Linked DNA regions of Homo sapiens: region 1 is reported to be linked to region 2. Evidence: microRNA targets listed by miRTarBase, many of them from high-throughput screens and not tested one by one. Region 2 holds a microRNA gene; the other region holds the end of a gene's coding sequence.
Evidence for each region. The annotated mature microRNA hsa-miR-4716-5p reads UCCAUGUUUCCUUCCCCCUUCU and lies in region 2 at 2,063-2,084, shown strand. An mRNA with a match to its seed (bases 2 to 7 or 8) in the 3' UTR can be bound and repressed. Matches are read on the target gene's strand: a 7mer-m8 pairs with bases 2 to 8, a 7mer-A1 pairs with bases 2 to 7 and ends in A, and an 8mer does both.

Region 1 (3,334 bases), not on the chromosome of region 2:
TTATCCCGTCCTTTCCCTCGTTTCTTCAGTGTGGTGGTTTTTTATATTAGCAGTATTGGTTTAATAGAGCAAAATTTCTTTCTGACCACAAAAACTGCTGAGCTTCAAATAACTAATCTTGAGAAAATACGAATGTGGTTACCTTCATCTTAATATAGTTACTGATATGCTCTTCAAAAACAGTGGTTGGACTTGTTGGAAGTTAGAACTGGACTTGCTAAGGAAGTTAATGTTGCTCTGGGTTAAATGGGAAACATATACTCTGTTGAAAGAAGAAATGTTATAGAAACTAGTAACAGAATAATAAAAGTCCCTTGTATGTCTCCATTTCGGGAGAACTTTTGCTTTTGGAAAATTTAGGGTGTTCCTAGTATGGACTTTGGGTTTCTGCTTTGTCTGCTTGTTAAAGTATCTGTATTCGATAACAGGGACTTCCTTGCACACATGTGAGGGAGATAAATATCTCAGAACTAATGCATTAGCAAGGTGACCACTACAAAGAAAAATGGTACAAACTCTCAAGACATAAAGTTAGCTTTTTTTTTTTTTTTTTTTTTTTTTTTTGAGAGAGTCGCTCTCTGTTGCCCAGGCTGGAGTGTAGTGGTGCAATCTCGACTCACTGCAACCTCTGCCGCCTGGGTTCAAGCAATTCTTCTGCCTCAGCCTCCTGAGTAGCTGGGATTACAGGCATGTACCTCCACACCTGGCTAATTTTTGTATTTTTAGTAGAGACAGGGTTTCACCATGTTGGCCAGGCTGGTCTCGAACTCATGCCCTCAAATGTTCCACCCGCCATGGCCTCCCAAAGTGCTGGGATTACAGGCGTGAGCCACCATGCCCAGCCAAAGTTTTAGCATTTTTTGAGGCACTCAAAAGTTGAGAGCATCAGAGTCACCATGGGTATAGAATTCAGATTGGGATTCGTAATCATGATCTTGGTGATTGGAACTTGGCAGAACAGTGACAGTATTACATTCTGGGAAATTTCACTGAGTATAAAGGAAGACTTAAGTCTTCTGAAGAGATAAGTAATGGCTCATTAAAATCTAAAAGAAATAGGAGTAATATTGTGAAAAGATTTTATGGAAAGACTTCATACCTTTTTTCTGAGTCAATGTTTCTGACCTTCAGATAAGGTCTTTCCAGCCTATACTGTACTTGGCCATTGTAGTAGTTTTCTGGAGAGCCTGTGGGCAGTTACTATTGTAGATGGCTATGGATGGGACATGGACTGCATTTTACCTACTCTGGTCCAATGTTTTCTATGTACCATGACAAACATTACAAGCAATCCTTTTCTAAATAAGCCTGTTTAGAATAGAACTAAGAGCACATGGAAGCTACTGTGAATAACTTAGTTAAAATGTCTTTTTTTTTTTTTTTTTTTTTTGAGACGGAGTCTTGCTCTGTTGCCTAGGCTGGAGTGCAGTGGCGCCATCTCAGCTCACTGCAAGCTCCGCCTCCCGGGTTCACGCCATTCTCCTGCCTCAGCCTCCGGAGTAGCTGGGACTACAGGCACGTGCCACCACGCCTGGCTAATTTTTTGTATTTTTAGTAGAGACGGGGTTTCACCATGTTAGCCAGGATGGTCTCCATCTCCTGACCTCGTGATCCGCCTGCCTCAGCCTCCCAAAGTGCTGGGATTACAAGCGTGAGCCACCGCACCCAGCCAGTCAAAATGTCTTCTTATGGAAATGCAATGGACTGGATGACAAATATAAAACAAACACACACTTGGGAAATTGCTTCAAAATTAAAGGGTGGGCAATTTAAAAGGACAGGAAATTGAGTGATTGATGTGTGTGTACGGTAGCTACGTTTTTATCAGCTTACACTAACTTCCATTAAATAGCCTTCCTCTCTAATACTTAGGTTCTAAACCCTGTAGGGGTAACAGATTTTGCTTAGTAATCAAATAGAACCTCAGATCATGTCACCCACAGAAAGAGGGAAGTAGAAAAATGAGACACTCCCTTATTGATCACACAGAGCTTTCTGTATGTCTGCCAGAAAGTATTCTGGGTTAAATAATTATGTCACAAAATATGAGATAAGTATGCAAATATATGTAAGGATAAGGTGTTCATAAGTGTCTCCCTCATTCAGATAGAAATTTCTAGGTATTTCAGGAATACTATTGCCAGTTGCTTAGGGAATATTCTCCCCTCATTTTATTTTCAGGAATAATATAAATACTGCATACTACTATATAGCAAGTGTATGAAAAAGTGGGTCTGAAGACACTTGTACAAGCCTTAAGTATTACTGTGCATTCTGAGTTTTAGGAGATGGGAAGATAGATTTTTCTGTTTCTGCAGAGGATGGGCTTAGCAAATTAATTATCCTGCTACTTCCCCTTCAAGATTTAATAATGGAATTAGGGAGTGTCCATTATTTTGTATGAATGAAAAAACATTACATTTTAGCCTCCAAATGAAGAAAAACAAGTACCAAGTTTCTCTGTGATTTCATTAAAGCAAACTGAGTTCTCAAATCTTACTCTCTCTAACCCAAAACAAAGCTGGTCTGGTTCTAATGGTGTTTTCCAAAACAGAAAATCCTCCTCGCTACTATTTCATTTAAAAACTGACCCCAAACCACAACCCAATTTACATGCTATCTATCTATCTTTGTTATCCACATATAAAATTCTCACAGCCAGCAAGGCAACTTAAAAGGGTTTCCAAAGAAATAAGCTCAACTCCATATTGACAGAATTATTCCTAGCCGTTATTTTGACATAAATTTCAGTATCTAAATATCGCAAACTCTGTAGTTTCTAATATTTTCCACATAGAAGTTTCTAATATTTTCCACATAGTACCAACAGCTGCAAATCCAAGATATGAAAGATGTGTACTTATTCAAATGTGGTCTTTACCATCTGTCTAAAGTTGGCTGACAGGTGTTATATTCACAAACACCGTGCTTTTGTGTGCGGGTTACAATCTAAATCCTTTCCACGAAGGAAATACGTTGCAAAATTGATGTCTCAAGGCCACTGAAGTGACATTATAACTTCAGTCAAGCATTAAGAAGTTCATCATCTGAGTGTCCAATAGCATCTGGGTTTGAAAGTGGATCCAAGTCTGCAAACAGATTGAACCAGGCTGACATGTCTTGGTTGCCATTGTTGGGGGCTATTAAAAAAGAAAAAAAATACATTAAAGAGATTCAGTTTTGAAATCATGTTTTTGTACCATATTTATGATTTTGAAGTAGGTGCTTCTTTTGGATTAAGAAAAAATTAAGATAACTGACAATAATCTATCAACTATAGTCCCTTTAAGATTTTTTTTTTTTTTTTTTGTTTTCGGTAGAGACTGGGGTTTCC
Region 2 (3,413 bases):
AGGCTGAGACAGGAGAATCGCTTGAACCTGGGAGGCGGAGGTTGCGGTGAGCCAAGATGGCGCCACTGCACTCCAGCCTGGGCAACAAGAGCAAAACTCCGTCTCAAAAAAAAAAAAAAAAAGAAAAAGAAAAAGAAAAAAGAAAGGAAGGAAGAAAGAAAAGAAAAGAAAAACAGCAAAAGCAGAGAGTCAGGAAAGCCCTTCGCTAATGTAGCAGGTGACAGACTTCATTTTATGAGACCTCAGCCCCATTAGTCAGAACGAAGTATTTCTACAAAGTACCTGTAACTGAAAAGATCCTCCCCGAGACATCACTAAACTATTAGTTACTGTGTAGCTAGGGACTGCCAGCAAATTAATTCCCTAAGTGACAGTTCAGAGATTCTCGTGTTTTTGTTTTGTTTTGTTTTAAAGAGGATGCAGACACCAAGAAGGTTTTTGTGTTTGTTTTCAATTAATATTTAGAAAGAAGACTTTTAAAAAGCAGTATCAACTGGCATGCGAGACAAAGAGAGGAGTTCAGTGTGGATATGGGCATTTCTGCTGAAGCCCAGTAGAAAGAGTACACTAATTACAACAAGAAAAGGAAAAGAAGAATCTGCATGGATGAAGAAAAAAACATACAACCCTTCGTAGTAGTCAAGGTAGAATGTGTTTGCGGCGTGATCTTTTTTGCAAGCCCAGCCACGTGTCCTTATAGAATCCCAAGGGTTCCACTTGCTCCCCGGGACCAAAAGCAGCGCCCCAAGGGAGGAGCCAAGTGCTGTGGACCCGATCTACACGTAGCCAACCCAGCAGATCCCAAAGCCCGGCGTCTCCTCTCCCCCACCTAGGATGTTCTGCCACCTGGACCCGACGCGTAGCAGGGCTCTCTGTAGCCATATTTCGCTAGATCCTTCTTTCTCCTGTAGTTTCAAGTGTCTAAGCAAAGCTCCCAGAGCAATCACGAGACTTCTGTGACAGGAGCCGTTTTCTTCCGGGAGATAAACAGCTCCCGCCCTGCGGAAATCCTGCAGCTTCGCTGAGGTGGCTGCTTCCAATCGGCCCCTCCTCTGGCTCCTCCTCCCTGGACTCAGCCAGGGTTCCCTCCAAGCAGCAGTCAGGTACAGCCTCCGTCCTGCTCTTAGCTCCCAGGGAGGGACTAGGGCCTCGCAGGAGCCCCTGCGCAGAGCACGTGCGAAGCTGACTAGTGAGGTTTTCTTTTTGCGCCCTGTGGATGTCAGAGAACAGTGTCATAACCTGGCGCCCTACATACACCTAGTTTCTGATCTGTCTCGGGCTGCGTTTTTTTGTTTGTTTGTTTGTTTTTTAGTTATGGTTTTGGTCTTTATTGTTCAGCAGCTACTCCCCAAACAACACTAAAATGTTTAGCTATTGCTTCTTTGCGGATTACTTCCAAATCAAGCAACATAAAATTGATGTATCACTTGATTTAAATAGATTTGCATTTATTTACAGGTTAGAGGCATTGGTGGGCCTTCCTAGAACACAGTAGTGAAAAGACGGAAACACATGCCTTTTAATGTGCAAGACCCCTTAGCATCCAGTTAAACCTCTTCATTTTTCACTTATCTAGAGAAATCCTAGATGCCCTATCAAAAGTACACTATCCCTAGTACATCACTAACTTTTCCTTCCTTCATAGTTCTCCTATTTGCTTATGTATTTATTGTGTCTCTCACCACCTCCATCATCACTACCACTAGAAAGCAACTGGGGGCAGGCAGATTGGTTTTTAATGAATAGGTAAGATAAACTGAATGAACGACGAAAGGTGAAATGATGTGCCTGAGGTCACAGTGATCATTGGGAACAAAACTGGAATTAAAATTCAGATCTATTAACTCTCAATCTAGTGCACTTTGCACCTCAGAAATATTGAGATTAAACCCAAGCAAAGACAGCTAGCAATAAACCCATTCCAAAGTTTCCTGATTAAGGAAGTTTGAGCCAACATGCCCAACACACTAGGGGTAGTAGCATAACTCAGAGAGATTCGATAAGTTGTATACATCAGTAAGTTACTGCTCCAGAATTTCTATATGTATATGCATACTTTGTCTCCATGTTTCCTTCCCCCTTCTGTATACATGTATACAGGAGGAAGGGGGAAGGAAACATGGAGACAAAGTGTGAATGGACAATAAAGCATAGCCAAAGAGTGGCAGCCCCTTGGCACCCCGTTGGGTTATTACTGTAAATGATACATCAAAGAAACAAAGTTACTCTGGTCTCAGGGCAGCTTTCTCACTATTATTTCAGTCCCTCTTTATCATTTTCAAATGAATGAATTATATCTTCTTGTTTCTGGGCCCCAATAAATCCCAGTTTGATGTTCATTTTGGTTTAATTTTGAGTAACAGGAGTCATCACTGTCACTTGTAAATAGTTTTAATAGGGAGATAACCTAAATTTTAAAAAAAAATGTAAAATGTTTAGGGACATCAGTAAATACAGAAAAGAACAGAATCTTTTTTTTTTTTTTTAGATGGAGTTTCGCTCTTTGTTGCCCAGGCTGGAGTGCAATGGCATGATCTCTGTTCACTACAACCTCCACCTCCCAGGTTCAAACGATTCTCCCGTCTCAGCCTCCCAAGTAGCTGGGAATACAGGCAGCCGCCACCACACCAGCTAATTTTTGTATTTTTAGTAAAGACGGGGTTTCACCATGCTGGGCAGGCTGGTCTCGAGCTCCTGACCTCAGGTGATCAGCCCACCTCGGCCTTCCAAAATTCTGGGATTAAAGGTGTGAGCCACCGTGCCCAGCCCAGAATCATTTTTTATTCAGATGTTTCTAATATATTCTTTTGCATTAGTTGAAAAATAACAAATTTTAAAGTTTTGAATTTTTTTAACAGTCCAAAATAAACTCATTTTATACAGGGTTAAAAAAAAATGACTGTAGAAACTGTTTCGAAAAAGAATACTTCCTACTGAATATGTACTTGATGACCGAACATTAACTTTGCTAAATGAAACCAGATGGCAAATCATTAGTTTGGACCTTGGATACATTGCTATTGCAGTCTCAACAAAACCGATGCAGACTAGAAAGCACCTTACAGAGCAATTAGTAAAGCATCCTTTTTTGAAATGATTGGCACAAAGTAAAACAGGATTAACAGAGCTAGAACTAAAACCTAGGTCTCTAGACTCCTAGCCTAGAGGCCATACTACTTCTGAATATGTGACTTTTGTTGAGACCCCAGTAAACTGTGCTTAAAAATAAATTATTGAAATGATTAGAATCCTTGTCCCAAAATAAAATGTGTACATTATAATTTTCATAAAGGATTACTCTTAAAATAACCTGTCCAAACTACTAGAGAACCCCAAATGGACACCAAAAACAAAACATTACTTTCTTATACTACCTTCCTTATACTAGGCATCTTGCTAAGTAAGCACTTTGC

Region 1: miRTarBase lists ICA1L as a target of hsa-miR-4716-5p. Seed matches in the 3' UTR shown: 7mer-m8 at 1,572-1,578 and 7mer-m8 at 743-749.

The regions. Positions count from the first base shown.
Region 1 is chr2:202,776,509-202,779,842 of GRCh38, forward strand. It overlaps ICA1L (islet cell autoantigen 1 like), which reads right to left. Exons shown (of 13, transcript NM_001288622.3): 13 at 1-3,140. The coding sequence ends at 3,025. Among named protein-coding and RNA genes, the nearest start is that of ICA1L, 94 kb to the right of the region's middle.
Region 2 is chr15:49,167,792-49,171,204 of GRCh38, reverse strand. It overlaps MIR4716 (microRNA 4716), which reads left to right and starts at 2,052; the gene lies at 2,052-2,135. GALK2 (galactokinase 2) reads right to left here and starts at 958. Exons shown (of 10, transcript NM_002044.4): 1 at 830-958. The coding sequence starts at 882. RefSeq lists enhancers at 771-1,010, 642-1,546.